Linked DNA regions of Homo sapiens: region 1 is linked to region 2. The links come from fine-mapping of genetic effects on gene expression. A gene starts in region 2. The other region holds a variant in brackets. All regions are shown on one strand. Distances are from middle to middle. Region 1 has its middle 29 kb from the start of POLR1D. Region 2 holds the start of POLR1D (RNA polymerase I and III subunit D).

The links. PIP is the estimated chance that this variant, and not a neighbour inherited with it, causes the effect. A credible set is the group of variants that fine-mapping cannot tell apart.
Region 1: its variant is the best candidate, but not a certain one, in a credible set for the expression of POLR1D in whole blood (TOPMed, PIP 0.55).

What each region holds. Positions count from the first base shown.
Region 1 is chr13:27,642,433-27,658,967 of GRCh38, reverse strand. It overlaps a transcript of POLR1D not described here. Among named protein-coding and RNA genes, the nearest start is that of POLR1D, 29 kb to the right of the region's middle. The variant T/C (reference allele first, on the strand shown) is at 8,657.
Region 2 is chr13:27,615,754-27,632,288 of GRCh38, reverse strand. It overlaps POLR1D (RNA polymerase I and III subunit D), which reads right to left and starts at 10,397. Exons shown (of 2, transcript NM_015972.4): 1 at 10,280-10,397; 2 at 8,840-9,414. The coding sequence starts at 10,305. The coding sequence ends at 9,039. It overlaps LNX2 (ligand of numb-protein X 2), which reads left to right and starts at 11,760. Exons shown (of 10, transcript NM_153371.4): 1 at 11,760-11,914. RefSeq lists silencers at 10,141-10,700, 11,321-12,210 and an enhancer at 11,004-11,732.

The DNA of each region.
Region 1 (16,535 bases), 27 kb before region 2:
TTTAGGATTTATTTTGCCAAAATATAAGCTTTTCCAAGTATAAGGCTGAAGTTCCACAGGCACTAGACTCAGAAATTATATTGGGCAGTAGATAAGCTAAAGTGAATGTGACCAGAATTAAAACAGCTTTGTAGACAATGAAGCTGGGCAAATTTCTGAAATTTATGCTTATAAATTCCTTTATGTTGACTAAAAGGAAGTCATATGAGCCAATATTTCAGCTTCTCCTAAAGCATCTGTCAACAACAGCTTCTAAAGAGATTCTTTTGCTGAAATACATCCAAGGAAGAATATAGCACCAAATGGTCTCTTTCTTTATAAAATAAAAAATGGCATCCCACTTGCATTTTCTTTAGATCAGCAATCTCTCTCTGGCAACTGCTCAACCATCTATTTCTTATGGAATATCCAAAATGAAAAAAATAATACCACTCACTCTAGTTCTATTTTAAATTTTAAAGCAAATAAAAGGTCTTCTAGATACTTAGAAAAAAACAGGCCATGGCCACTAGTGAACAACAGATTGCTACTCTTTTAAGAACTGTCCAAGAAGTCCACTCCACAGCGATGGGTCTTGGGACTCTTGTGGCTGAACACCTGGCCAGGCTACCTAAGTGCTATTTCAGTGCAGAGGAGCTGTCTGCCTCTGGCCGAGGTGTAGGATTGTTCTGGATTCTGCAGAGCAGGCTGGTATCATTCTTTTTAATAAAACAAAAGGGACTAGTAAAATGTTTTTCAAATTTGTGTTCACTTTAGAATCACCCGGGTAGCTCTTTAAAACTCCAAAGCCCAGGCCACACCCCAAGTTCATAATCACTGATAGTGGGGCACAGGCATCAGTATTTTTTGAAGCTTTCCAGGTGATTCCAAATGTGCAGATAAATTTGAGAACTAATGACTAGTGGTTAAAAGTTTCTCACATACACTTATTTAAATAAATGGAAACCAGGTGATCTTCCAGAACGAGCAGATGAAGGGCAGGTGCCCTTTGTCCCAGCACTAGTGAGTAGAAGCAAGCCACGGTTGTCATGGGTCCAGACCTCCTTTCATAGCCCATATCTGTTTGGGTGTGCTGAACTGCTGGACTGAACTCTGGCTAGGAAAAAACAGTTGCCCCTGGAATAAGCAAGTACCCAGAGATTCCTGCTTCCAGAGCAACACAGATCAAGAATCAAAATGTGAACATTATGAGAGAGATAGAGAAAAATGCAGATAAACTTTTTATTTTTAATGAAGTGAAGTCTTCTATGGGATTGACTTGCTCAATTGTTCAGAGCAGTGCTTCCCAAACTTGATTGATGAGATCTTCTAGTAAGCTTAAAAAACTAACAAACAAACAAAAAACCTGTAGGACCGATCTTAGACTTCTCTATCAGAATGCCCTAGAGTGAGGCAGGGAAGGAGATGTGTATTTTTATTTTTTATTCATTTTTTATTTTTTTGAGATGGAGTCTTGCTCCGTCGCCCAGGCTGGAGTGCAGTGGCGCAATCTTGGCTCACTGCAACCTCCGCCTCCTAGGTTCAAGTGATTCTCCTGCCTCAGCCTCCTGAGTAACTGGGAACACAGGCGCCACCATGCCCAGCTGATTTTTTGTATTTTAGTAGAGATGGGGTTTCACTGTGTTGCCCAGGCTGCTCTTGAACTCCTGAGCTCGGGCAATCCACCTGCCTCGGCCTCCCAAAGTGCTAGGATTACTGGTGTGAGCCACAGCGCCTGGCTGGAGATCTGTATTTTTAAAAACCTCTCCAGATTATTTTCTAATTAAAAAAACTCTGTTAAAAAGTGATAAATAGAAGACATATTTGTTATATATTACTGTAACAGAGCCCCTGGTAGAGGGTTACAATGGATAGCATTCCCTGCTTCTCATGCTCCCCTTAGTGCTCACTGTTAGGAGGCCTAACTTCTCACAGACCTTTATGCGTTACGGGGTCCCATGGCCTTCCCTGACCTGGCCAATAGAGGATTACATGCATTGATCCACAACTCAGGTTTTCACATACATAGTAGATATTTTCTCACAAGGATTCATATAGTGCTGACCAATTCTTTTTAGTGACTGTAAAATATTCAACAGTAGGATGTACCACAGTTTATTTAAGCATTTTCCTATCTATGGACATTTGGACTGCTTCCCTTTTTTTACTATCAAAATGTGCTACAATAATTCTGTACTTAGGTCTGCACACATTTATTAAGTTCTATGAAAGAGGGATTACTGGGAGCAGAGATCCTGGGTAAAGGGGCACAGAGAACTGTGACTCAACATTTTGCCCATGGCCCTGCACAGAGCAAACCACACCACTGCCTGAAGCACAACACTGCACCCCTTTCCACATCCCTTCATCTCCACTGGATTACTGCCTCTTTCATTTCTGCCAATCTAATGGTGAAATTTAAGTGCTATTTAAGAGGAATATAAATACCTATGCATGCACTCCCACCCCCATTAGATTATAAATTCCAAGAGAGCAGGAATCTTTGTCATTCTGTTTACAGATACATGAGTGTCAAAATAGCAGAGCCTAGCTCTGCTAAGTACTCAATAAATGTGTTAGTATGTTTACTTACTGGCCATTTGTAGTTTTGATATATACACATACACATACACAGACACAGACACACACAGATATGGTTTTCTTTTTATAAACTGATTTGTAGAAGCTTTTTCAATACTTAGAGTATTAGTCCTTTGTCTGTTATATATGGCAAATAATTTCAACCAGTCTACCACTTGTCTTTTCACAAGTTAACTTTTTGTATGGTATCTTTTTCTATGTAGAAGTTTACTATTATTATGACATGGTTGAATCTGCCATTGTCTCATTCATAGCTTCTAGGTTTTGTGCCTGGCTGAGGGAGGTTTCTACCTTATCCTTGCCAATATTATAAAAATATTATCCTGTATTTTCTCCTATAAGATTCATATTTTGTATGTTTAGTTTTTAATTTTCAGTATTACAGATGAATAGTCAACTGTATCAGCATCACTTACTAAATAATCCACCCTTTCTCCACTAGTATGAACAATGACCTTTTTCCACACAGTTAGTTCATACACATATGTCGGTCTCCATTCTTTTTTTTGTTTTCTTTCCTTCTCCACTCCCTTCCTTCCTCCTGCCTCTTTCTTCCCCCAGTCTCTATTCTTGATTCTCTATTCTCTCACTAATGTCTTTAGTCTTACACGAATCTCATACTAATTACTATAAATTTACATACTATTATTATATTGAGCATGCAATATTCTCATCTCATTCCTCCCAAAAATATCTTAGCTGAAAAATTGCACCTTTATAATGGAGAGATCTGGTAGTCACCAGCTTTATCAAGGGCAACCTGACATTAAGTCCTCCTGATCTGTTGTAATTAAGACGTATAAAAACATCACCTGTGTAATATTCCTTCCTGTCAAACAAGTTTGACCTGAATCTAATCAAGAAAACATAATAAGGCAAATCCAGTATGTGGAACATTTTTGCCTGGATCCTGAATCTGCATCCCAAACAAAAGGCAACCACTATAAAAGACATTTTTGGGATGTTAGATGATGATATGAAATTATACATTAATTTCATTGATATGGTAATTACAATGTGGTTATGCATGAGAATGTCTTTGAGATCTGCATGCTGAAGAATTTAGGGCTGAAGTATCAAGATGCCTACAATTAATTTTCACATGGTTCAGCCAAGAATTATATGTTTGTGTATTACATGTAAATATACTATACCACACAATCATAGATAATCAAACAATGTCCTTTTTTCTCATTATATTTTCTAGTGGGCTATTGACTGTATAAGGAATTGATTTTGAATGTTTATCTTGTGCTAAACCACTATGGGTAGACATCCTATCTTCAACAAATGACCCTTTGTCTCCTTTTTTCTCCTCCTAGTTATTTTCCTTGTTTTGCTGTATTTGCTTGCTGGCACCTATCTAAAGCAGCAGTTCTCACCATGTGACCCGTGAACCCTGAGAGTCCTCCAGACTCATGAGGCAATCTACAAAGTCAAAGCTATTTCCATAGTTTTGATATAATTTGCTTTTCTCCAGAAGGTTGACATTTGCACTGATGGTGCAAAAGCAACAAGTAAAACAGTGGCAAGAAACAAGGCAGTGATGAAAAACTGTACCAGTGGTCATTGTACTCTTTACCACCATGCACTTCCAGTTAAAAATGGCCAGTTTTACTTGAGAATGTCCTTGATGAAGCAGTGCAAATTATTAATTTTGTTAAATTTTTACCCTTGAGCATCAGTCTTTTTAATAATGTATGTGTATAAACGGGACATACATACAAAGCACTCTGGTACTTGAGATTATGATGGAGGCCTCAAGGAAAAGTACTTGTGTGACTGAATGGCAAAGTGAACTAGCTGGTTATTCAGATGTGGGTGGGCCTGTCACTTCTAGGAAAACAACTCCCAGTATTCATTGCCAATATATAACTGGAGCTTCCAGATGAAAGAAAATTAGAATTTTGGCAAACTGTGAACTTGACAGGTTCCCTTGACACTTAAAAGACTGATCTGATGAGATTGGTGATGATATTTACAAATGTGATTTTAAAAATATTATATAATGACACGTGTCAACATTTGGAAGCTTCATAACTCAGTGAACCAATATTTTCCAGATGACCAATGATGATGTTACAAAATCAAGAATAAGTAGAAGATCCAGCCAAGGTACAAGGATATTATATAAAGGGCTTTTACTGTAATAGGATAGGAAAAGTACACATTATTAAAAAGAATATTACGAAATTACTACTTGAAGTTACTTGCAAAGTTCTGATGTAGTATCAAAGAAGAATATCTACAGTCTTCTGAAAAAGTTATTGAAATAGAGCTAAAATCACGCAATTTACAAGTGAGTAAGAAAATATCAATCATAGTTCTTGCTCTGTAAGGAGCGTTCAAGGGGCTTGGTTGTTTCTTGCCAGCTCTCCAGATAGACATCATTTATCCTGACAACTTTAGTATCACCTACTGGCTTTGTTAAACTTTCTGATATGTATTTCCTTTTGAAAATACATATCTTTGTAAGGTAGTATTTTCTTCACATACTTCAGCCAAAATAACACATTACAATAGATCGAATTCAGAAGCAGATATAAGAACCCAGGTGTCTTCTATAAGCCAGACATCAAAGAGGTTTCCAAAATTACTGTACTCAATGCATTTTGTTTTGCAAATATAGTTATTTTTCTTATAAATGTTATTTATCTTAATGTATTTGATTTATTATTTAAAAATGAATAAATACTTAAAAATTGCCCAGCTTTAATTTTAAACATTGGTATTGATAGATATAACCCACATAAACAAAAGCTCTTTGGGGTTCTCAATAACGTAAGAGTGCAAGTATCCTAAGATGTTTGAGAACCACTGTTCCAAGACAATTGAGATAACCAAGTAACAATCCCAGCAGGAATTCGTGTCTTTCAGACTCATGGGAAAGTGTAATTTCACATCCTAGTCTCCCACGGGATCCACCTCTTACAATCTGGAGTATCTTACTTTGCCTGCCATCTTTTATTTACTCCCTTTTCAACATGCTTTTTCCCTATACCTGGGAAGAAGCTGCTAGTTGTCCCTCAATATCTGCTCTTTCTTTTTTCTGTAGTCAAAGAACCCCAGATACTTATCTGCCACGCAACTGCCTATGAAAAAAAAGATGAAATTTCTGTCCTTGCAGCTAGATGTAGACATCAGACTAAATTCTGGCCAATGGGGTACATGAAGAAATGGTAAATACAGGCCGGGCACGGTGGCTCACGCCTGCAATCCTAGCACTTTGGGAGGCCAAGGCAGGCGATCACTAGGTCAGGAGTTCCAGACCAGCCTGGCCAAGATGGTGAAACCCGATCTCTACTAAAAAAAAATACAAACATTAGTCAGGCATGGTGGTGGGCACCTGTAATCCCAGCTACTCGGGAGGCTGAGGCAGAGAATTGCTTGCACCAGGGAGGCAGAGGTTGCAGTGAGCTGAGATCCAGCGACAGAGCAAGACTCCGTCTCAAAAAAAAAAAAAAAAAAAAAAAAAAGAAATGGTAAATGCAACTTCTGGCAAGTTTTCTTTTTTTTTTTTTGAGATGGAGTCTCACTGTGTCCCCCAGGCTGGAGTGCAGTGGTGTGATCTCGGCTTACTGTAACCTCCCTCTTGCAGGTTCAAGTGATTCTCCTGCCTCAGCCTGAGTAGCTGGGATTACAGACGTGTGCCAGCACATCTGGCTAATTTTTGTATTTTTAGTAGAGATGGGATTTCACCATGTTGGCGAGGCTGGTCTCAAACTCCTGACTCAAGTGATCCGCCCACCTCGGCCTCCCAAAGTGCTGGGATTATAGGCGTGAGCCACAGCGCCCAGTCATGGCAAGTTTTCTTAAAGGAAAGGGGTGTGCCTTCCTTTCTGCTAACTGAAATGTGGACTCAGTGTCTGTTACTATATTAGACTATGTAGAAAAGAGTCATACCCTATGATTGGGAGATTTGGAAAACTGGAAGGAGCCTGGGTCCCCAGTAACTCTGTGTAACTACCAACCTAACCAGTGTTATTCCTAAAGAGTACATCAATGCCCACACAAATCTCAAGACAGTCTGGTGCACATGGTAACTTTCCCCAGGGAGAGCAGAACTAGCACTGATACACTAGTTCTTTTACTATCAGAAAGTTTTATGAAGCCAGTAGGTGGTACTAAAGTTGTCAGGATAAATGATGTCTATCTGGAGAGCTGGCAAGAAACAACCAATCCCCTTGAACGCTCCTTACAGAGCAAGAACTATAATTGATATTTTCTTACTCACTTGTAAATTGCATGATTTTAACTCTATGCTGAGTCTTTCTAATAGGTATTAGATTGGACCAATGATTACTGACAGCCTGATGAAGGTACAGCCTTATATCCGAAACCAAAGCACCCTGTGCCTAAATAGTTTATACTAATCTGACTCACAATAGTAGAGGCACCTTATTTCTGTAAAGCACAGAGGAGGGCTGGAAAGAAGAGCAGATTTAACTAATATTTACTAACTAACTGCTACATGCCAGGAACCATGCTGGGTGTTTTCATACACATTATCTCACCAGATTTTCACTATCATCCTCCCACTTTTCCCATGAGTCTATAAGACAATAATTCCTGCTGGCATTCTTATTTTTTTCAATTGTCTTATAATAGTGGTTCTCAAACTTTGTGGTCTTAGGGTACTTTACACTCACACTCCTAAAAATGATTGTGGACACCCCAAAGAGCTTTTGTTTATGTGGGTTACATCTATTAATATAAATATTCAAAATTAAAGCTGAGCATTTTTTTCAGTATTCACTTTAAAATAATATATCTATTATTTACTAGGTATTTTACTGAAGCTAAGATGATTACACTTGATAGATACAGGTTGACTCACATTGGATTATTTCATTATATAATTTCATCCATAAATATATCAGAATACATTTCTAAAAGATAATGGCTTTTAAAAATTAAAATAACAGCAATACTATCACACCTAAAAAATCAACATCAGTTCCTTAATATCATCAAATACCCTCAATTGTTGAATAACTTTTTACAGTTAGTTTGGATAAAGACACAAACAAGGTACCCATTTTATTTGATGTTCCTCAAATCTATTAATTCACAGCATACTCTTCTTTCTTTTCTCCTTGCAATTCATTTGTTAAAGAAACTGGGTTCTTTGTCCTGTAGCATTTCTCACATTTTGGATTTTTGTGATTGCAGCCTTATGGTGTCATTTAACATGTTTCTCTGCCCTCTGTATTTCTTGCAAACTAGTAGTTCTAACTAGAGACTTGATCAGATTCAGGTTCAATTTTTTGACAAGGATGCCCCAGAGGTGGTGGTTTGCTCTTCTTGCATCTTTCTGTGGTATAAGGGTTAATGAATGTGTTGAAACTCAAATGATGATAATATTATTCTATAATCCTTCTAATATATTAGTTACAATTCTTCTGTAAAGTTTTCTTTCATCAATTAATTGGTGACTTTGAAGTATAATTTGTACAGGGAACAGGGTAAATGCTTACTTCTTCCTATTTATCAGTTTTGTGAATAGTGATTTGGTGCTCTAGCATCCTATAAAAGGGACTACCAGGTTTGTTATTATGATTATCATTATGACCTTACAGATTTTAACATATTTTAGGTGTTTTAATCATTTATTTGTTTTTTAAATCAAATTATATCATCTTTGACTAGTGGGAGACCTTTCAAGTGGGTCCTGAGTCTTTCTGAAATGAGTACATTGGTCTTTGACAGTTTCTTTGCTTTCTGGTGTGACAAGATTTTCCAGCTTCTCTTATACATTTCCTGCCCATGTAGTCAAGAGTTTGGTTTGGCCCAAAGAGAGGGCTGGCCTTTGCCTTAGCTTCCAGAAAGTAATGTCATAGAAATGTCTTTGTTTAGGGTGGAGCTGGTCACACCTAAGAGTCTTAGAGTGGGAGCTGGCCATGCCAGAGAGACTAACATGTGACTTAGGGTGAGAGCTTTGGGTTACGTGGTATCAGTCAACCTGGAAACTGAGATCAGTCATGTAATCCATCCATCCATCCATCCATCCATCAATCAAACCTATGTAATGAAACCTCAATAAAAACTTTGAACACTGAGGCTCAGGTGAGCTTCC[T/C]TGCTTGGCAATATTCCATGCCTATTATCACACACTGATGCTGGGAGGGTAGCATATCATGACTTCAAACCTATTTAATGAAACCGCAATAAAAACTTTGAATGCTGAGCCGCAGATGAGCTTCCTTGCTTGGCAATATTCCATGCTTATTATCACACACTGATGCTGGGAGGGTAGCATGTCCTCTTCACGGAGCAGAGGATAACAGTGGCTTTAATCTTTGTGTCTTATTTTGGCTGATTTTAGTTTGTATCTTGTCCCTGTAATAAGCTGTAACCACAAGTATAACAGATTTCAGTTAATTGTGTGAGTTCTTCCAGTGAATTATTGAAGCTAAGCGTGGTAGTTTGGGGGAACCCTCTGAACTTGTGGTTGGTAATAAGAAGTAAGGATAGTCTTGGGGACTGTGACCTCTAATTTTGCAGTTTGGCTAACTCTGGGCACTGCTTCAGGTCTGCAATCAGTTCTTACTCTAAGGATTCCGCTCTCCTTTCAGTGAGAAATGGTATTTACATAACACAGTTTTGGCACCGGGGTGCTCACTGCTACTGGGTGGGTGGTCATTGTTTCTAGACCTTTTCTGTGAAGAGAACTAGAAAAAGCTTTTCTCTCTCCCTCTCTTTTTTAAGAGAAAATCTAGCACAACCTCATACTGATGTTTCCAATTCAAATTTAGGATTATAGGTAGGTTTTTATTTCTTTGATTTTATATTTGTAGCTCTTTAAAATTTTCATGTTAAATCTTGGTATTTATATATAGAAAGTATTGCTTGTTTTATCCTACTATATAATATTTTCAGAATAGCAATACCAATATTATTACTAACAATATGATGACTGAAAACAATTTCTTTGTAGTTATTTTTTATCTTTTGGAAATATAGTCAAATTCCAGATCACCTGAAATAGTTTCTTTCCATGTAGCTAAGCCATCCACTCAATGGTTTATCAGGTCCATGTTTTATTTTGCTTGATTTTTAGGTATTATCTTTTCCATTTTAATTTTTGTCTTGGAATTTAGGTGAACTATGTGCATGGTTCTAAATGTCAAAATTACAAAATGAGCTATGTTCAGAAGTTTAGCTTCTACTCTTTTCACATTTTTACATTTTACTCTTTTTAATGACCCTCCTTATTCCATTGCAGTACGTTTTTAACTGTAGATATAAATTCCAGAATCAACAAATTCATCAAATGCAAATGGCATCACTAAAGTAGTGCCTAGAAGGGTGTTTTTTTTGGTTTGTTTTGTAGAGATGAAGTCTCACTATGTTGCCCAAGCTATTCTCAAACTCTTGGGCTCAAACAATACTCCCACCTTGGCCTCCCAAAGTGCTGGGATGACAGGCATAAGCCATTGTGCCCAGCCCATATTATTAAGTTTTAACAAGCTCTATTTTGTACATAATCTGCAAAGGTAATCTTTAATTCTACATGGCTGAATTGTCACATAATCAAAATGCTTACAGTTAAAATTAATTTCCTAAAATAAATTTTAATTTACTAAGGACTATAAGTAAACTAGAAATTCTTAAACAATGAACACCAACATAATATTACTCTTGCACAGGTGACTTTGCGCACAGTAGTATCTAAATACCTCTTGGAGACTTGTGAACTAAAGGGACAATGAACCTATACTGCGTATCCTCCATAGGCGCCTGCTGCCCATTTCTTCATGTTATTAGAGTTTCTCAACATTCAGTTCTCAGCAGTGTCTTACTCTACACTTGTCTCTGAGAGATTTCCTCTGCTTCCATGGTTTCCCATTTCCTCTATATGCTAAAGATTTACATATTTATATCTCCAGCTAAGAATTTTTTCTTAAGTTTTAAGGAAGATTACTCAAAGAACTTACCAACCCATGGGTCCCATTGTTTCAGCTCTAGTTTTCCCACGTTTTGCCTCCTTAAGCAGTTCTTCTATTGCTTTCCTGATAAGAAAAAGGAAAAGATTTGAGAGGCAGTCACCCTACTAAGTTCTGAAAATCAATTCATTCCAGGTCCATGATCTTGGGAAAGGAACTAACTTTTGAAGCATGATTGCTGGGGCAAATTTTTTTTTAAATGGTTGACAATTTTGAACACATAAATTAAAAAGAAACTATTAATATAAAGAGAAGCAACATTGAAGAGAAAAAAATTACAAACTGGAAAAATATTTTTGATATGAGACAGTTAAATCATATATCCTTAATATAAGAATTATCTTTTCTTATTAATTTGAATAACCAAAAGACATGAACAGCCAAATATGTATATATCTATATTTTTTCAAATTCACTGTTATTCAAAGAAATACCAGTGAACTCAACAAGGATAAATGTTTCTGCCCATTAGTTAGTGAGGGGGTAGAGAAATGGATAACTTCTTCTCTACTAATGGGGACTGAAGCTGATATTACATTTCTGGAGGACAATCCAGCAACATAATAAAGAACCTTAAGAATAGTATATACCAGTTGATCTAAAAATTTTTTACTTTGTCCTATGAAAATATTCAAATAAGTATGGAAAAGTATATGTACAAGGATATTCAAACTACTTGTTAACAATTAAAGAAAAAACAGAAAACTTAAATATTTACTGATAAAGGATTGGTTAAATAAATCATAACATATCCACATATGTGGAAGATTAGGCAGTCATTAAAAATGAAGACAAATGAATTTTTGGCACAGGACACTCATAACATATTCAGTATATAAAGCTGGTACAAAAGAATATGTGTAGAATAACCTTAATTTCAAATTTATTTACATATATATTACATAGAAAAACATTTGGAGACGGCTAGGTGTGGTGGCTTATGCCTGTAATCCCAGTACTTTGGGAGGGTGAGGTGAGAGGATCACCTGAAGCCAGGAGTTTGAGACCAGCCTGGGCAACATAGCAAGACCTGGTCTCTAAAAAAAATAAAAATAATAATAATAAAAAAATTTGGAGGGATGTTATCAAAACAGTAAGATGAGTTTTAAGGTGATTTTTTCTGTTTGCATTGCTGCATTTTCTATTTTTTCTACAATGAACATGTATTATTTGTGTAATTTTTGAAGAGGTTAAAAAAACAGAAAACATATTTATCAACCATATTCTGAGACTTTACTATGTGTAAGATACTGTGCAAGGTGCTATGGGTAGCAACATAGGAAGATGATCGTCCCTGACTTGAATATGATGTATCAATAACAAAGTTAAGAAAAAATAAAGTTAAGAAAAAGAGAGGTATAAACAAATATAGTCCAAAACAAATATAGTCCAAAGACAGAACTATAAATCTAATCATGAATTTTTGAAGCTGGATAATTATATAGAGTCTATATTAAAATGTTATGACACTATTATAATGCTACCATATACTATATAATCTTCAAATGATATTAACATTCTGTTTACAAGAATGTTTTATTTCATGTTGATTTTTATCAAAGTAAAGCATGCACATAGTTTAAAAAGACAAATATTATTTAAAAGATTTTAAATACAACAGTCTTCTAAATTATCCTGCCCTACCCACCAAAGAAAACAATTTCAACTTTTTTCATCTGTTTCTCGTTATTTACCTCCATATTCCTAATACTATGCTTTCAAACTATTTCACCACCTCTTAATCTTCAAAAATACATCTGCTTATTTTTGTGTAACTCATTTTAAAATAAACTCTTATTGAGATCTTTAAAAGATGTCTTTTCAGTTAACTCAGCAGCTTGACATTTTCTGATCCTTCTTGGGAAGGCCCACTGCTACAGATCAATGAAAAACTAAAGCGCTTGCCTATCTACTGACATGTTGACTCCCTCAATCACAAGTTTCGCAGCCCAACCTCTTATGGAATCACAAAGAGGTAAGTTCATCTGATGACCACATATGCTGCTTCTTCCAGCTCTTTAGAATAATGATATGGCCTGCTGAAATGATCTGGGGACTTTGTCTCTTACAGTTCAAGCAAAATTTATCCTAATAAGGTCCAAAACAGATTGTTTTTCACCCTTATAGATTTAAGTAAAAAAATTAAAGGGTATAAATATTCCAAATATGCCTCTTCCTTTCCCATAAATTAGTGTGGTAGTTTTAAAATAAAAAGATAAATCATACCTAGATCCACCTATGTGCTCTCCTTCTGTCAAAAGAAATGGTTAAAAATAATCAGGAAAACAACTTTTTGGGGCAGTTCCCCAATTATGAACAAAATATGTATCAGTTACAAATAAACTAGAATGTGTTTTCCCATAAAAACTATGTTAAAATGTTTGCCTAGCTTTCTGGACCAGACTATAGAAACTTATTTGAGTCAGAATCCAGCTGAAATGCTATACATCTGCAGAAGATACTCAGTAAAGATTCTTGCAGAGACCCTGAAGGCATATTCTAGGTGCTTTCAAGAGCTTGAAGTTTGACAGTGACTCTTCTTTAGTTTCGATTCTACTTAAAACTGTCTCTAGCACTGTTATTAATTTTACCTGGCACGCTTAAGGATGCCTTCTGGTTTACGAGTACAAAGAGAAAAGAAGATATATGTATGAGAAAGACTGCCTGCGGTGAAACAAATTCACCAAGGATGGAGGACCATAAAAGGAGGAGTAGATACTGGGTGGGAGGGCACTCAGTCAGCTTGTCTACCGTGTTCCCACTGGTAAAGGGGGCTTAGCTGCTGTTCACAGCCAAAGTGGTGCAGCGTGACCCATTCCCATGGTTCGGATCTACCCAAGTTAGGTATCTGCAATTGGTTTAACAACAACTAATGAAGATATAGAGCTTTAAGTATACCAAGTACTATTCTATATAACCATGATAACATAGTTATTACCACCAATACAGATGTGGAAAGTGATATTCAGAGACATCGACTAACTTGCCCAAAGTAACACTGCTAACGATCAAGGAGAAGGGCAATGAGGAAGAGGAACAAAGCAAACAAAACCCAACCTCTGTTTTTAAGGCTAGGTATCATCTGATCCTTCTATTAGACTATCTCCTCCACAAATATCTGCGCAGCAAATCCTGGAGAAATTGTTTATCATTAAAAGGCAAAAAATAAACTAAATGGGGAAAAAAAAGGCCTAACAGAGTGCCACTACTGCATTCATTCAAAGAGAACTGGGGGATAGGCTGATACTGGAGAGGCGGAAGGAATGAAGGAGGACTGATCACTATTTTGTCCTAAGAATGTTGAGCATTCGCTACTTCCCACCCAAAAGTCTCCTGCATAAGCTCCCTCTACAGAGCTTTACTTCCAAAGAAGAAAACAATTCTTAGCAATCAAGTATCCCAACCTTAAAACACTATAACTACCTTCAAAATTAAGGGGAGAAAGTCAGCAACTTCCCCATTACTGTAGCCTCTGTTGTTTCCTCTAGAAATCTCATTAATGAATTATTGGGTAAGGAAATTATAAATCCAGTTTCTATTCTACATGATCACAGGGGCAAAATAACTTAAATTATCAAAGATTATGAAACATTAACATGCATGAAACAAGATAGTTTTTAATGAGGTGATGAAAGAAGTATAAACTGTAATTAAAATACAGGAAAAGCAAATAGGAGAATATATAAGAACTAAGTATATACAGAACTTGAACAATTAAAAAATTATTCAGACATAAACTTAGTTCTTGGTATGCTAGTTTTTACACTTGGTTCTTTTCAATATCTTGAAGGTTTCTTTGTAAAACTAATTAATTATATTAGAATACTAAGTTCCATGGAGACCCAAGAGAGCTGAGTCATTAAGCAGACGGTTTTCTGGGCACAGGAACAAACCACAATCAATTTTCAATGATCCATGTGTGTATTATCTCCAGCCAATTTTCCATACTAGCACAGCTTCCTCAGGCCTGCCTGTTCACTCCATTAGCCAGCTGGTACATGCTTAAGGAATGTCAACTGATCATAATAGCAGCTTAAATAAAACCCAAGTAGGAATGCAAATCTGGTACAAAATCATCTTAAAATCCAAAGTCAAACAAATTAGTTTTGAGTTATCTGGGTCTGTTTCTTTTTAATCACTTTAATCAACTGAGGGTTAACTGTTCCAGTGTACAGAAGGGGTAGCAAGAAATTGAAGGCAACTGAAATAAAGCACCAGAAATTGAGAGGAAAATTAAATAATAAAGTAGGAAAACAGGAATTTTAAAGGAATAAAATCAGAGAAGCTAAATCTCAAATAACTGCTCAAAAATGATGGAGTCAGCCAGAGGGAACTATAGGCCTCTTCCTGTGATGGTGAAGGAAAGCTAGGAACACAAGGCTGAACGTTAGAAGCTTTCCTCATTTGTGTCTCTCTCAGTCTTTAAAAGTCACCTTTGATCAGCTAGCTGTATAGTACAGTATCTGTCACATGATGGACAGAAAAACAGGTTCAAAAAAGGCAATACATTGCTTAATAAGACTACTCTCTTCTTGATGTGTTCAAACAAGCATGACTTGGTGACAAGAATACAGACTTCTTAGAAAATTGGCAGAAATGAGTACAGCATCATTTGCTGCTGTTGACTGGGAAGTTATCTAAAAGGCCCAACACATTATCAGTGCTGAAGGCAAACATGTTTATACTTGTGGAGTCGTCCACATACGTGTAAAAGAAACCTTACTATGGCAATCTAAATTTCTTCCCATAATGGAATGATAAAGCTTAGAGAGAAAAATGGAACTATCTACTCGATCTTCAGTAAAGTTTTGATGTCAGGTCATTGATTAAAAAAATATAGACAGATGATCAGATCACTCTGAACATCTGCAAACCACTGCTTATAGGTTCACACTGCCAGTAGTAACTAGTGGTTTAGTAGTCATAGGGATCTGTAGAAACCACAGGACAAAGTTTGGGTTCTTTATGACTTAGTGTTTTGACTACAGACACAGGCAAAAATTCAGAAATATCCTTATTTAATTTCAGTAAAATATCAGATTGTCTGGGGTCATGTATCAGCTCTAAAGAAAGGTACAAAAATTCAAATTGTGAAAAGCGTTTTTAAAGACAAGGTAAAACTCAATAGGAACACTGAGGTTATTTGGGAAATGAAAAGACTTATTCACAGACATAAACTAAAGGCACAATAAATTAATCTGCACATTTTGTTAAATTCAGCTAATCTACATTACGCACTTGCTAAATACAAGGTACTGTGATTTATACGGTGAATTAGGCTCTTCCCTGAAGAGGCTATTAGGGCCTGCATATAAAATAAAGAGCCATATATGTACTTTAAAAACAAATACTGGATTATCTAGGAGAATGTGAGGAGGGAGCTCCAATATTCATTTATAAAATAACAAACAGAAAGTCATGAGAAAAGGTGCTGAATTTTTAAGAAGAACTTATGCTGGTAAAAGACTGGAAGGTGATGGAGGAACATGAGTTTGAAAGGAAAATTAATGAGATCCTTTGTTGATTTCATGCCCAACATGAACTAAAGAGATAGATGAAAGTGGTATTTTAAGCAGTGGTGGAAAAATAAGACAAAGATACTGCAGATTGCTTTTTGCAATGATGATAATAATTACTTCACAGGGTTGTTATGAGGATAAAATAAAATATTTGATTTGGATCCAAGTGTTCTGTATTTTATAGGAAGCAGAAGAAATATGATAGCTATTTTTTTACACTCCTAAAGGTCTCGGAACTTGTCTTTTTCAACCTAGTTTTCTCTATGCCTGGCACATACATGGTTAAGTTAAGATCTGGGGAATAAATGGGTTCTGGGTATGTGTGGGACATGATACAAATGCAAGGTTTTAAAAATAAAAATACTGCATCTGTAGACAGAATAGATGATGATGGGTGAGATGGAAGAAGAGGAAAGACAAAGGAGGTGAGAAGAAGATAAAAGAAAAAAATATAGTATGTCACTGGGTAAATAAATGTAATGAAAAAAATGAA
Region 2 (16,535 bases):
CCACTTTTTCCCTCCTAGAGTTCTGTGGGGATAAGATCCCAAGGAAAATTCATATCACTCTCCCATACTGCTCTTGCAAAGTAAAAATATCCATCAATCAACTTCAAGTGGGAGATATTCTACCTTTTTAAACCAATAGACAAGACAACAGATGAGGCATGGGATCAAGGTGGTGAAGATAGTAGTGTTAGAGGCTCTTGAGGACACAGAGAAGACAAAAATGAAACAGAATATAAAGCATAACCACCTTTATCAAGGCTCTCTATGATGCTTACTCCTGCCTCCCCTCAGCTCCTCCTCCCACTGAAGCCACAGGATAGGCATGGTTCCTTGTCCCACTCAATAATTTTTTGTCTTCTTGAAGCTTGTTACTGTGGTGGCTTTCTGAGTTGCAAATGTCAGCTGATAAGTGTACAAAATAATGTCATTATAAATCATCAGTCCTTCTTCCTGTTGTGGTACTCATACTCTGACACTGGTATGTAATCATGCACATTATTCATTGACTTTCTGAAGAAACATTAATGAAAGCCTACTGTGTGCCTGACCCAGTTTTAAGTGCTTGGGGTTCAGAAGCGAACAAGGACAAAGCCCTTGCCGCCAAGGAGATATTTTTCAAGTGGAGTTAGACAATAAATAGATAAATATATAATATAATGTCAGTTGACAATGAGTACTATGAAGGAATATAGCAAGGTAAAGGAATAGAGAGTGATGGAGGTTTGTATGTGGGTGTGCATGCCACTTTAGAGAAGGCGGATGGGTAAGCAGCCGCTAAGATGGTGCCAAGGATCCCCACCTCCTGGTATTCAGACCCTCATGTACTCGCTCTCAAGTGTGGGCTGGACTTACTGACTCATGTCTAACCAACAGAATAGAGCAGAGGCAATGGAATGCCACTTCTGAGAGTAGGGCATAAAAAGACTGGCTTCTGTCTTGGGTTCTCTCTAACTCTGTTTTCCTGGCTCTGGCAGGAAGCCAGCTGCCATGGCATGTAGCAGCCCCATATGAGTGAGCTTGTGGGCAAATCGTCTCCCATGCAATCCTCAAGAGTGCAGCCTGGATGACATCTTGACTACAGCCTTGTCAGAGACCCTGAGTCAAAATCACCCAGCTAAGCTCCACCCAGATTCTTGACCCACAGAAACTGAGATGTATTTGTTGCTTTCAGCCACTAAGTTTTGGGATAATCTATTACGCAGCAATGGACTAATACCCAGTCAAGGATGGTCTCTCTGAGCAAACGACTTTGGAAATGGACAGGCCATGTGAAGATTTAGGGGAAGAGAGGTTCGGGAAGTAAAGGGCAAGTGCCAAGGCCCTGAAATGGCAATGTTAGGCTTATATGCATAAAAGTGAGAAGGCCAGCGTGGCAGAGTCACAGGTGATGCTTTGGGTAGACAGCAGGGTGGGGGAGGCGGGCAGCTCATGCAAGCCAGCCAGGAGGGCTCCTATGGATAACATGACACAACCTGTACTATGAAGACCATAAGTTTAACTCCCACTAATTGACTTGAACAACAACCATATATATCAATAGCAATAGCTAATGTTTGAGTATTTAAGTGTACTAGAAATTGTGCTAAGTGTTTTATTTCATTTATTTCTCACAATAGCCCTATGAAGTAGGTGTTACTATCAGCCTAATTTTATAGGTATGAAACTGAGGCTCAGAAAGGTTACATCACTTGCCCACATTCATAAGATAGGAAGTGTGGAGCCAACAGGCCCTCTGACTTCAGAGTCCCTACCCTTCGCCTCTACACAACACTGCCTTGAAAGAGGTCAGCAGAGAAAGAGAAAGTCTCTCCCACCCATGAAAAAAACAAAAAACAAAAATTGTAACCCCAAGCTGTTGTTTAAGCCAACTAGTTCAATCTCTGTGTAATTAGATGCTCCAGGCTGTTGGATTTTCTCTTGGAGTCCTTTTAATAAAATTGGTGGGGGCATTATTCATAATTTTTTTGAGGTTTGACTCCAGTCAGGAAGGTAAAACTTAGAAAAGCACCAAGGTAGCTTTTGTTTTTGAGATATGCTAAGTGCCTTGCATAATGAACAGGGAATATACTGAGAAACAGTACTAGATAAAAAAAATCAGGCTGGCTATTCCAGCACTTTGGGAGCCGGAGGCGGGCGGATCACGAGGTCAGGAGTTCAAGACCAGCCTGTCCAATATGGTGAAACCCCGTCTCTACTAAAAAATACAAAAATTAGCCGGGCCTGGTGGCGGGTGCCTGTAGTCCCAGCTACACAGGAGGCTGAGGCAGAAGAATCTCTTGAACCCAGGAGGCGGAGGTTGCAGTGAGCCAAGATCGCGCCACTGCACTCCAGCCTGGGCAACAGAGTGAGACTCCATCTCAAAAATAAATAAATAAATAAATAAATAAAGTCTTTTTAATGCAGTTTTTACAATCAACTGACCTAGATTGAGCCCTGGCTACCTACCAATAGTCCAGATACCTGGCACCAAGCCAGGTACCCATCTGCTACAGAACTTGCTTTTCCTTCTGCTTAACCTTTATCTTAAAGCTTAAGGATGATTACGAATGTTCCATCAGAATCTTAATTTCTTTTTAAAAAGAGGAGAAACACAATTTGTCTGCGACTTTTCTCTATATCCTATTAATAAGAATGCTATTTTAAAGTATTTTTCTTAAAAGCTATGGGTTTAACAGACTGATAACCTTCCATACAGGGGTCCTCAAATCATATTACAGACTGAAGAAAACAAAAAAATACACAGGCTACTAAGATTTTTTGTTTCAAAGTTTTCACATGAAGGAATATAAACCAACCCAGCTTGCTCAACATCAATGATATTACAATAATAACATTAATAGCTAACATTGATTGAGAGTATGCTTTATGGTTCAGGTACTGTCCTAAGCACTTTGAATATTATCTAAATTAACACTTGTAACATCCCTATATGGTATTATTGTTATCCCAATTTGCAGAAGAAGAAACTCAGGCACAAAGAGATCAAACAGTATGTCCAAGGTCACATGGCTAACGTCTAGAGCCAGGATCAAAACCCAGGCATTGTGAGTCCAACAGCTCTAAATTCCAATGTTATACTGCCTAAGTTTGCTATGCCTATGCTTACTGAAAAGATACCCAAGATTCCACACATATCAATTTCTGTTCCTAAGGAAGGTCTATTTTGGCTGGGCACAGTGGCTCACGCCTATAATCCTAGCACTTTGGGAGGCTGAGATGGGAGGATCACTTGAGTCCAGGAGTTCAAGACCAGCCTGGGCAACATAGTGAGACTGTCTCCACACACAAAAAAACAAAAACAAACAATTAGCCAGGCATGGTGGCACATGCCTGTAGTCTCAGCTGCTCAGGAGGCTGAGGTAGGAGGACTGCTTGAGCCTGGGAGGTCAAGGCTGCAGCGAGTTGAGATTGCACCACTGCATTCCAGCCTTGGTAACAGTGCGACTGTCTCAAAAGAAGAATAAAAAAGTTCAATTAAAATAAGCCCCTCCAATATACATACATGTATCAGCCAATCGAAAACAACTCCAATATCCTACATATCCTCCTTCCCACAGAGTAGTCCAATATTCTTTACTATAATTGTTAGGTAAATACATATACAGATTAAAAACAGATGATATAAATTTAGGCACTAATAAAAGTCACAAACACAAGGCTGAAATATACAATTTATTCCTCTAGAAAGGTTCATAATTTTTCTTTCATTGCTGAATAATCTAAGCTCAGGTTTTTAAAAAAATTCTGGGCTCATTCTCTTTTATCCTTGGTCTCTCTCTTCTTGTATTTCTCTGCTCAAATGTTACCTCCTCAGAAAGGCCTTCCTTAACTATTCAGTGTTTTCTCCTTGTCATCATTAGTTTACTACCTGAAATTAAATGTTTGCATGTTTCTTTATTGTCTAACTCTGCCATCAGAAAATAAACTGCATGTGGGCCAACTTGTTCACTGCCGTATCCTGGCCCCTAAACTGTGCCTCCGTATAGTATGTGCTCAATATTTACAGAGCCAATTAATGAAAACATTCCCTGTAAAGCAAGCAGCTTGGTGAGTGCAGACCGTAAGAGCCAGGCTGTTCACTGCCCTGATCGCCTCTTCTTAACTCTCAATTTTCACATCTGTAGCCCTGGATTCATATCCTTGTAAAATACATGAATTCTTCTGATATGGGTTGGGGAAGGAGGTAAGGGTGGTTGCACCCACTAACTCCCGTTAGTAAGGACAGGCTGGAGAAAAGAAATGATAAATCCTGCCTTACTGGTTTTTGGTTGTGAGGGAATGGTAGGATAAACAAAGGGGTAAATGAACCTGGATATGGGGCCTTTGGGGTCATCTACAACTCTTCTATTACCCCTCTATAGAATCTGTCTCCAAGTTACTTTTTTTGTTTAAGCATTTTTTTTTTGTATCCATCCTTTTATCTCCTCTCTTACAAGTATGCCCTCCTTACATTATACCTGGACTATTACAAATGTCCCCAGTTCACTGCTGTCTTCCAGTTTCCTTCCACTCACCCATTCTGCACACAGGCATGGGACAAAAAAAAAAAAAAAAAAAAAAACTAAAACTTTACGGCAGTTCTAGCTCAAGAATCTTTAACAGCTCTCTTACACTGGAAAAAAGGAAACCATTTATTCCTGTTATTAATCATAAGCCGCCAATTCTTATTTGCCATCTTCACTGGCCAACAGAATGAGTGCTCATGAAAGAATAGATGTTTCAGCAGTGCCTTTCACCCATCCCATTCTGAATTCATCACATAATACTCCACACTGCACATTCGGGCACTTCATTGTCAATACAATTGGTTTTCTTTTTCATGTGTACAGCTCTTGTCTGCCTTCTCCAAAACCACAGAAGGGTTTTCAGGACAGACTCATAGTCTCTTATTTCCACCATTTCTCAGGACTGTGCTACTATTAGGTACATACTTACTGTATAGTTAAATAATTAGAGATCTAATAATCCAAGTTTGAGAAGAATTTCATCATGAGAAAAAAAAAAAAACCAGACCCACGCAGTAACTGTACCAGGATAGTTTATAAAGCAGGAAAAGAAAATAGCAACATTAAGAATTTGAGCAAGAAAAGGCTGGGTTTGGGGGTCTTAATAAGTACTTGAAAGCAGATGGGTAGATTTGGGTAAACTTCCTAAGAGACCAGTTTAAAGGTTGTTACAAAGAATGACTCTAAATTACGCTAACCAAAAAGAAGACTTTTGTCTAGTGATCTGGAGACCATCTAAAATCTGAATAACGTGTTTAAGGGAAACTAAAAGAAGAGTGGGGAGTGGTAGGCCACGGAACTTGATATGCTTTCCTATCTCTTGAGATGCAAGACACTCTTTGGGTCAGTACTGAAGAGACCACTTTGTAGACACCTTTCCATCTCTCGAGATTCTGTGTGAACCTGTGCATTATGCCAACTAATTAGAGTACTTAGATGTTACAGCTATATGCAATTTGTAAATAATTAGCTTGTAAAGTACTTTGAAAATAGAAAGTACCAGCAAGTACTCAGAATTACTACATGTTAAAAGCCTTTGGTATATATTTAATAATCAGCTTTTTAAAAGTCACAGTACTTTACAGCTGAAGAGAATTTCTGATCTTGAATCACTGGCATGAGTTTATTTAGAATGAAATGCTATTGGAGTGCAAATCAGATGCGGATTAACTTTTCACAGGATGTATAAGATTCACATTCATCTCCCTAGTCCTTTTTGGACCAACTCAGCTTTCCCTCAGGTCCCTACAGACTTTATGCAGATTCCTTTCACATATACAAGACTCTTGGTTAACCTGCCTGCCCCCTTCTCAGTTTCTTCCCTCCACCCAACTGCCTTCTGCAGGTGTTTTGTATGAACCCGTGAGTTTATGGTCACCCTAAAGACATTCAAGACTGCATTCTACGTGATCAGTCTAAATTCTTTTAGGTGCAATGAAGTTGTGATGTGGTGAGCGGTCGCCTCTGGCTGTGTTTCCCACTGTACTTCATCTACTATCATCAGTCTGTACCTTGATGTCCACTAATTAAACTTTGTTTTCATCTCCTGACAGGCCTTGGTTTAGAGGAATTAAACTCCAGGTAAGTAATTCTGTTTACTATCCCCACAGGCAAAGTTTTGGGAGAGGAAAAAAGTTTTTAATCCTTTTCCACATCCTTTTTGAGCTTCCTTTTATCTTCAAAGGCTAATGCCCTTAAACAAACATTGACTTTCCAGAATTTCTTACTGTCACCATAAGAGAATATGCTGTATCCTTGCCCTATGACATCCCTGCTCCCGCCTAAACTCACCTCTTCCAATGTCTTCATGTGATTCTTTTATTGGAAAACCAAACTAAGCCATTCCTCTGTATAATGAGTGGTAATGTTTACTCTTCTTAGGCAGTAAACTAATGCTGTTACTGCCTAGTGACCTCCACGTTAACTCCAGGTGACATTTTTCTATTCCCTATTTGAAACCCTTGGCTTCCACACCCTATTTTTGCACTTTCCTACCATTACATTGACCCAAACTTACAAATACTCTTATCTTTAACTCTTCTTTGACCCAAACTTTAAATACTGAAGTTGCCTAGGGCTTTGTTCTGGGCCCACTTCTTTGTCACCCTCTATTTTTTTTTTTTTAATCAATTTATGTCATCTTTATGGCAAGGACTCATAAAATTTGTCTCCAGCTTAGATCTCTTCCACGATCTCCAACTCACATAGCCACTGCTTACAATGTTCACAAATGAAACTTTTGACTCCTATCATCTTTTCCACCTCCCAATCTATTTTCCATTTTAAGCTTCCCAATTTCAGTAATTGGCCCCAAAGCTAGGCAGTAGTCATCTTTGATTCTTCATCTTCCACAGTTCCTGAAGTGTACCAATTCTGTGCCAATTCAATTCTAAAATATACCTCAAACCTACCTTCTCTTCTCCATCACTAGCTTCTACCCTTCCAGGCCACTTCAACTCTTTATAGTGTCTCTCTCTGCTTCTACTCCAGCCTCCCTATAATTCATCTCCCCCCACTCTGTAATCAAAGTAAAGAAGACGTCATTCCCACTGAACCTAAAATCCAAAATCCCTACTACCCCAACTCTTCCTCCCATGGACTCCAGAGGACAGGCCCTTCTCCTTGTCTACTGTGCTACAAAAACATGCAAATCTTTGTTCAATATCTTCAGTTCCTCATGCCACCAGTTTTCTGCTTTAGGACCTTTGCACATGCTATACCCCCAGAATGCATTTTCTCTCCTCTTTGCACAGCCAGCTCTCTCCCTTCCTGTAATCTCTAGAACACCTTTCCTAACTTCCGTGCCTAAAGTAGATTCCTTTCTTATGTTTTCTATCTTGACCCTACATTTGCTGCTTTTACAGAATTACAAGTTTTTAATTTTATATATTTTTTTGAGACAAGGTCTCCCTCTGTCACCCAGGCTGGAGTGCAATGGTGTGATCATGGCTCATTGCAGCCTCAACCTCCTAGGTTCAAGATATCCTCTCGCCTCAGCTTCCCAAGCAGCTGGGACTACAGGCATGTGTCACCATGCCTGGCTACCTTTTTTATTTTTTTGTAGAGACAGGGACTCCCCATGTTGCCCAGGCTTGTCTCAAACTCCTGGGCTCAAGTGATCCTCCCACCTTGGCTTCCCAGGTGTGAGCCACCATGCCGAGCCTCACAATTTTTTTTTAAGGGGCTCTTATAACACATGCTTTATGAGAACAGGACTTACTCTGTCTCATCCACTATAGCTATATATCTATCCCCAAGGCCTGGAACATACTAGTGCTCAAAAATATGGATATCTCTTTAAAGAATTTGGCTGAGTGTAGGAAATGTAGGCTCTATGGCACGCTAGTGTAAGAGGTCAGGTTTGAGTGACTGAAAAGCTGCATGCCATAACTACTTACATGAATTCATAGAGTATTTACTAAGTGTCCACTACCTGTCAGGTGTTCCAGGTACCAGAATCATGTTGACCTCCAAGTTGGTTTAGTGGGTAAACAAGATAAGCACTACCAATAGCATAGTAAATGCCAAGGCCAGGAAACACAGGGTGTAATGAAAGCACAAAGAAGTACCCAAACTAGGCTGAGAGGCCTGACACATAAGCTTTGACTTAAGAGTACGGCAGGAGTAAGACTGGCCCAGGAAGAGGGGATAGATAAACAAGGGCCCAAAGCACAGAGCACTGGCGGGTGGGATATGTGTTTTCCAAAACAGTCATTTCCCCTATATGGAATTTTCCTTCTCCTTGGCTTTACCTTCTCTCAAATAGGGCTTCTTCTACATTACCCTAGGCTATACCTACTTAAGGACTGAAAATGTTTTCTAGTCATCCCAATTTTCTCCTTCTGTAATATAATCAAAACATCTTACCTTACTTAGATCATGACTAAGTATATCCCAAAATTCAAGCAGTAAACTGGTATCTTTCCTGTAAATGCCTCAAAGATGGAGCCTTACTCCCTAAAACTCTCATGTAAAACCAGAATTCTCACACTTCTTCCAAATTATTCCCACCCTTGCCAAGTCTACCAATCACAGCAAATGATGCAATTCTTTAAAAGCCAAAAAGTTTAGCAAGAAGCCAAGTCCCCACCCCAATCTTCTTTCCTTCTGTTTTTAAACAACAATCTAACTGGGGTCATGGTTTTTGTCTCTTCCCTTACCCCCACCACTCCAACTACAGACATGGATATATACTTCTTTTAATTCCCATGATCACAGTTCTTGTCTAGGCCTCTGATATTCTCAGTTTCCTCATTTTCAATGCTGGCTTAATTAGAAAAAAAGTCATCCTCAAGGACCATTTGGTTGCATGGAACAGAAACCAGTCAAACTAGTTTAAATAAAAGAGGGAATTTATTAGAAGAATACAGAGGTTCTTGCAGAGATTCCAACAGCTGCAAGGGGTCAACAGCTAGAATCACGCCTTTCTGAAGGACAGAGTATGCTGTAACCACAAACTTCTAATTCTGGGTTCTGCACCATCAGGAAGAGAATATCCTACAGGACAGTTCTCCTTGTATACTGCATAAAGGACTAGAATGTGGATTCATTTCTGCTTGCTTTTTGATCCTTATAGTCCTTTATGCTGGCCTCAAACTTGTCAAGCACATGTTGGCAGACATTCATGAGCTCATTCAGGCCTCTCTGAAATGGCTCAACAGCTGGAAGGGTACCTCGAGTCTGAATGCGTAAATTAATTTTGCTCTCTGAAGGATGGGTCGTAGTGTAACCACAAAATTCCACTTCCGGGTTCTTCATGATCATGTAACGTAGAGAATTTCCTAGGGTATGGTCTTCCTCGTGCAATACAAATGTCACACAGTGTCTATCTGTTCCAGCTGCCTGGACCATTTCCAGGGCTGTCTTCCTCTCGCCTTCAGCCATTGAGGTCTTCAATCCAGATATTTTTCTACACACATATTTTTTATAAAAATGAGATCATACTGAATATTGTTTTGTAACTAGCTTTTTCTCATTTACTATATCACATTGCAACACATTATTATTAATCTACTCCAGCTACACAGAATTATTCGCCTCTCATTTTCCTGCCTCCACAAACTCTATCAATAAATATTTAATTTATTGCCTCCAGTTTTTCCCTGCTCCATTTGACCATCCACACTGGCCACAAGGGGAGTTTTCTTAGAAAAACACAAACTTAAGTGTTTGCAAAAATATTTTTTGGTAGAGTCACAAGCAAGGGATAGGATTAGAATAGGACTGGTCCTGCTAGAGGATGAAGAGAGGGTTGAAAGGCATAGAAATCCCGATTGCTCTAGTATAAAAATAGAGGATACAGATGATCAATGTGCAGGCCCAACTACGGCTTCCATTTTGCAAGAGAAGGAAACTAGGAGAATGGAAGGTTCAGGAGTCAAGCAGCAGGGAGAAAAAGAGCTCAGCGCACAGAGTGGCTTTAGGAGCAGTCTGCACATAGAAAGAAGGTGAGCCGTAGTTACAGGGACAGAGGCACGAGTACCGTCCTCAGGAGCAGAGGCCCGGGGCGTGATTTTTACACACTGCTGTTGTAACGGGGGTGGGCAGTTCGGATACTTAACTCTGGTCTCCCAACTTGTCTTCCCTCCTTGATAGCTAGTGTACCTCTCAGCCTCTCAACTGAAACACATTCATGTCTCCTCCCCACTTCTCTCTCCATGCTTCTTCTCTGCGCCCCGAGTCAGGCCCCGGCTGCCAGGCCAGGCAGCGTGCCCCTCGGCCACCCGCTCCCCTTGGGCGCGGCCCGCTCCGCCCGCCTCCTCCTCGGCCGTTACCTCTCCAGCTCCTGATCCTCTTCCATCGCTGGGGCGGTTTCTGGATCCTCAGGTGGTGCTGGCGGATCGGGGGCTCTGTCCCATAGCGCGAGGCGCGGAGGCGAAGCAGGAAGCAAGGACCGACCGACGGAAGGCGCGGAGGACGGAAGGAGGGAGGAGGAGCCGCAGCGGCGCGGCAGGGCCCAGCCGCGGGGCGGGGCATGAGGCTCCACCCCCAGCCCCCGCCCCGACGCGGGGTGAGCGGTGGCTCGCGGCCCCGCGGCTCACCTGGGCGACCACGCGAGGCCACTCGCGGCGGGAGGGGCAGGGGGCGGGGCCAGCGCCGCCTTACCCCGAGGCCCAGACAGGCCTGCGGGCGCCCCGGCTCAACTCTGGTACCTTTCCCCAGGTGATGGCGAAGGGGCGCGGCCTTACCTGCCGCCCCCAAATCACTTCCCTTCCCAGTGGCAAGTCCGAAAGCGGCCCGACTTCCCAACTGGGGCGGTGTTGACCCAGGATGGCCCTTCCTGGGACCCCGGCCCTCCCGGGCCTTTTGTGGGACGACAGGCTTAAACTGTAGTCGGTCAACACACCTTGAAGAGGGAGGGGGGTCACGTGCGAGATGAGTCACCACAGAATACGAAGGTTGAAGGCGGTATTTGTTTCACCGGGGAGCTTGCAGTTGCATTTTCAACTGGGTCAAAATAGGGCAAGAAAGAAATGTCTCTTTTGGGGGAGTGAGAGTTTGGGAGAAAACTGTTTCCCACCTTATCCTTTCCGTCCTAGGATTCCTTCTACCCCCAGAGCGCGTCCTCTCCGGCTGTAGACTTCCTTTTCCCTTTCTCCCCAGTGGCTCCTCAAACCTCCTCACCTGCGGAACCCGCCCTCACCTTTGTTCCCAGGCGCCCAGCCCCCGCCTCGGCAACCTTTCGCCGCCCAGGCTCGCTCTCCATCCAGCTCCCTGCGTCCCGGCCTTCGCTGTGCTCCCTCAGGTGCGCTTCCTCTCGAATCGGCCCTTCTTGTCCCCTCGCCGCTGGCCCCGACCCTGCCCGACTCCAGCTGTCCAGCGCAACTACGTTTCTGCTTCCCTGCGCCACCTGTTCTCCTGGCCTCCCCCCACCCCGCCCCGCGATTCCTCTGGATGTTCACTCCTTCCCCAGCTGTGCCACTCTTGGCGGCGGCCGGGGGTGCGCGCAGACACCTAGCCAGCGGGGCTTCCGCAGGGGAATCAGGCGGGCGGCGGGGACAGCCCGGGGCGAGTGGGGGAGGCGGGCGGCGAGGGCGGAGTGGTCTCACTCTAACCCGGGAGTGACGGGTCCCTTCTGGCCCGCCTCCCGAGCTCTCGGATAGGTGGAGCCGCCCTCTGGTCCGCCCACCTCCCGCCCTGTGCTACCTCCGATTGGCCCGGGTGCGGGTTGGGCCGCTCGGCCTTGGCGCTGCCCCCGGGAAGGCAGCAGGGGCGGTTGAGAAGTGAAGTCTTGGCCGGAGTTTGCTTTTTGCCAGGAAATCCGCGGCGGCGGCGGCGGCGGCGGCGATTCCTGGCGGAGCGGAGCCGGGCAGGCTCTCCGCTCCCTCAGCGGGCCGCGGAGAGCGGGAGCTGGTGCCGAGCAGCGGCGCCAGGAGCCCGTGCGCGGCCCGGGCAGCCGCGCTTTCCCAGTGAGTAACTTTGCCCTGCCCGCCTCGCTGCGCGCCCTCTCGCTGGCTGCGGGCAGCCGCCTCAGGTGCGGGCGTCAGCTGGGTGTGGGTCAGCGCCGCGCCCCGGGAGGCGGCCGGAGCGGCGCCACAGCTCGCCCCGGAGCCTTGGTCCTTCGCGGCTGTCTTCGCTCGCCCGGGCTGCGGGGCTGGCGTGGACTCGGGTGTGGGTCTGGTCCAGGAGGGAGAGTCGGCGCCCGGTGCCCGCCGCCTGCAGGCGCCCGGGAGGCGGGCGGCCTCCGGCTGTTAGCGTTTGCTGGTTCCGGCCACCGTGGTGCAGAGCTTGGCGTCGTTTGCTTCTTAAGGGAAGGGAGAGGTGGGGTGAGTGTTTAAATTTCCTCTGTGTGTGTGTGGTGTCGGCAATGAGAGTGGCACTAGCTGCCTTTATCGGGTTTTGTTCTCTGGAAAGGGATGGGGAGAGATCATTCCCTCCGCCCCAGCCTGTTGCCTGTGAATTCTCACCTTTCTCTTTAGGCTGGAGAGGGTGGGAGAGAGATTTGACATCTTCCAGGGGGTAATTTAAAAATATGAATCTTGATTTGGAAGCAGTTGCACACAAAGCATCATTCAGGAAATACATCACTCGCTTTTCAAAGCTGTATGCCACGTTTTAAACAAGGACTTTTGACTCATGTAGTGTTTCTTTTAGTATTTCAGTTTACGTTAAGTTTATGAATCCAGACGTTCGTTTGTACCAGGAGCTAAAGTACACTTATGCATGGGCTTTGCTGTGTATATTATGCTTTTTAAAATCACAGAAATCAGAAACAAAGTTGAGTGAAAAGCGGTGGCGGTGCAGGAGGAGGAACACTTGTGAGCTCCAGCTTATTGGAACTGCCTTTAAGAATTTCACATTCTTGCGGCAATAGTACTTACTTGTAAATTGGCCTTCTTCCCAGGACAGGTTTTGATATTTCTTTTGCATGTACTTCGATGCAGCACTAATGAAGTTGGATCTCAGTAGATCAATTTTATTTACTTTGCTAGATTTGATTCCCACCCCCACACCTCTTTAGAAAATGGACTTTGGCAGGTAAAGAAGGAAGCGGGAATCTGGTATCCTTTTTGGCTTGTCAAAGCTTTGTTGAGCCATGAATAACAAAGTTTTGGCTTTTTAGCTTGTCCGAGTCCCACATGTGAGTTTTCCCATGGGGTAAAAGTAGGCCAAATGAGAACCAAAGTAGAATAACATCACTTTTAATTCGGCCCACTTGTGTGTTACATTCTCCATATATCTTGTTTCTCTCATCAACTTTGAAATTTTTTCATTATTTATTCATTTAGCCACTGATAAAGTACCTACTGCATGCCAGCCATTGATGGCGGGGGTTGCTTCTTGCCCAGTTTTCTCATTTGGAAACTGATCCATGCCTTTATCCCACTAGTTACCCTGAAGTAATTTGAACTTAGGGAGCATTTCTGCCTGGAGACCTGTAAGAATAGGTGTTACGTAGGCACTTAGTCTTCAGATTGGTTTGGGATTTCGTACATTGTAGGCACGTAGCACGCAGGCCACTTAAAAATAAATGTATGTGTCTTTGGGCTGTTGTATTACGAGCTTTGCATATGGGCTTGTCTGGCCGAAGGACCCAGTGTCCGAGGTGGAGGTAGTAGTCAGGGACATGTATTATTCATTTCAGAACACTTGGCACCTTTTCTTGCTTACATTGGGCACTAAAATATTTACTGAATTGACTTGAACAGAAAAATGAAGGATTTTTTATACCAGATTAAGAAATTTGGACTTTATCCAGTCAGTGATACTGAGCTGCTAATTTTAAGCAGGAGAATGTCATGATAACGGGTAAGCATTCCAGAAAGATATCTGCAGCGTCTGGAGGATGGTGGGCTTCCAGATGGGCGATATGGAGACTAAGTTGGAGGCTGTTCTAATGGAGGGGTTAAGTGCTCAGGGATTCTCTATTCAGATTACCTGGGGTGGAATCAGGCTCTGTCATACACTGAAACCTCTTTGTTCCTTAGGTTTGTCATCTCAGAGTTTGGGGGATAGAACTTGAAAAAACATGTCTATTACTTAGAATAGTGATTGCCAGATAGTAAGGACTTAGTAAATGCTAGTGTGCTGGCAGTGGAAGGAGAAATGACGTGGTGTTTAAGAGGTATGACTAGGAGGCTGGACTAGGTAAGTGACTGGGTAGGCTTAAGGAGGGAAGGATGAATCCTGGGTTGTTTGACTTCAGGCATTGATTGACATGTACTGGGTAAGCTGGCTGTGAAATTAAAACGGGTCAAATTCTAATTCTATTACTTACCCTTAGAATAACTATCCTGACAGAACTTTGATTTCCTAACATTTGGGAAATGATTGTCGTACCTGTTGAGTAGGGTTTGAGGAATTATGCATGTAATGCCTTTGGCAGGGTACCTAGCACATTCCAAGTGCTCAGTAAATATTAGTTGTTCCTTTAGATGATGACATTAATGAGCTAGTGGAATGTTGGAGGATATGAGAAGGAGCAGTTAAAAACAATTGATGGTAGAGGTGTAGAAGGGAAGATAAGTTCAGTTTTGGACTAATCTAAGGAGGTGCTAAATGGATGGTTGAGAGATCCATGATGCAGTTGTTGGATAGTTGTGTCTCACAGGAGCTAGGAAAGAATAGAAAAGAAAAAGAGTTCACAGAAAGGCTTTATGAGTATGGTAAGCTTTATGAGAGATTTAGAGGAAGGGGAGGGTGAAGGGGTTCACAGTGGAGCGATATCAGAAGTGTTGACATTGAATATTAGGCATTTCTATCCTTAAAATATATTTTGGCCACCATCAAAGAAAGGAGGACTCCAGGCTCTTGTAATCTGGTTGGCTCTTTGGCCTTCTTCCCCTCTTCTTTCTTTCCTTTACAATTGCCACCCGATATCTTTAAATTGTATTATGAGGAACTATTTAACTTTCCTTCCTGCTTACAGGGCTAGAGTTCACAGGCCCACCTTCCTCTATCCAAATGCATCTAGGTTTTTAAAAAAGAATCACAGGTCTCATTTCATAGGTTCTCCTCTATTTAGGAAGCAGTGTTGTTTGAAAAAGTAATACATATGTATCTTGCATGTAGAATTAGAAGACTGGGGCAGGCCTACCTAAATTGACCCTGTAGGAGGGCCTGAGAGTCTTACAAAAGACATCCCTTTTAGCTTTCCTGGCACCTGTTTCTTTTCCTCAGAAAATACAAAGCAGTAGGAAAATCTGTGGTTAATAAGTTATTTTGTTTGGTTGGATTCAGAAAAGGTGGCTATTTTGTGTATTAGCCTTCTAAGAAGTTATTAAGAGGAATTTTTTGGCCAGGTGCAGTGACTCACGCTTATAATTCTAGCACTTTGGGAGGCTGAGGCGGGCGATCACGAGGTCAGGAGTTCAAGACCAGCCTGGCCAACACAGTGAAACCCTGTCTCTACTAAAAATACGAAAATTAGCTGGGCGTGGTGGCAGGTGCCTGTAATCCCAGCTACTCAGGAGGCTGAGGCAGGAGAAATCGCTTGAACCCGGGAGCTAGAGGTTTCAGTGAGCTGAGATTGCGCCACTGCGCTCCAGCCTGGGTGATAGAGCTAGACTCCATCTCAAAAAAGGAATTTTTTAACAAGCAAGTGCTCATGACATTACAATAATAAATTGTCCTCTAGTTAGTATGCTTTTAAAGAAGCAGGTGTTGTAGGTTCTATCCTTTAGAATGTGTGCTTCCTAGAGCTGGGATCCTATCTATTTTGCTAACTGCAGAATCCCTAAGTACTTAAACAAATATTAATGTATTGTAAACCAAAAATAAAATTCTAAGCTTCCCCCTCTCCCCAGCCATCTGAATGGACTTCCTCCTCATCCAGGGGTCTTTTAAAATTTAACCTGAGAGACAGTTTCAGGCCATGAGTGGGAAGTGGAGGTCGGACATGACTTGTTATACCTCTCTGACATTAACATTAACATAGACTTTAAGTCCGATAAGAAACGTTTTACTACCACCTATCGAAGCCTACTACCTGAAGGCTTCCTCTGAAAGTAAGAACTTGGGTCTCCACAATCCTTTGTCTTAACCCAGACATTCCTTTCTGTTGATCCCAGGGCTTTAGACAAACTCAACCGACTGTCAACCAGAAAATGTTTAAATTTACCTATGGCTTGGAATGGCACTCCCTGCTACCCCCCCCAACCCCCCACCCCACCCCCGACCCCCTGCAATTGTCCCACCTTTCTGGACCAAACCAATGTATTTCTTAAAATTTTTTGATTGATGTCTCATGCCTCCCTAAAATGTATAAAACCAAGCTGCACCCCTACCATCTTGGGCACATGTTCTTAGGACCTCCTGAAGGCTGTGTCATGGGCCATGGTCACTCAGATTTGGCTCACGATAAATCTCTTCAAATATGTTGCAGAGTTTGACTCTTTTTGTTGACAGCATGCATTAATGAACAAATTGGATCCAAATTGGCTTTGATCTGGCTTGGCTCACAGACTTCTCCAAATCTTTGAAACAGTCATTGGTCAGAGGGAAAGCAAAAGAGAATTGATCCAGTGAGGAAGCTTGAACTGTTCCCTGTTCTTATAGGAATATAGAAGAACTGCAACATTGATGGCTTAT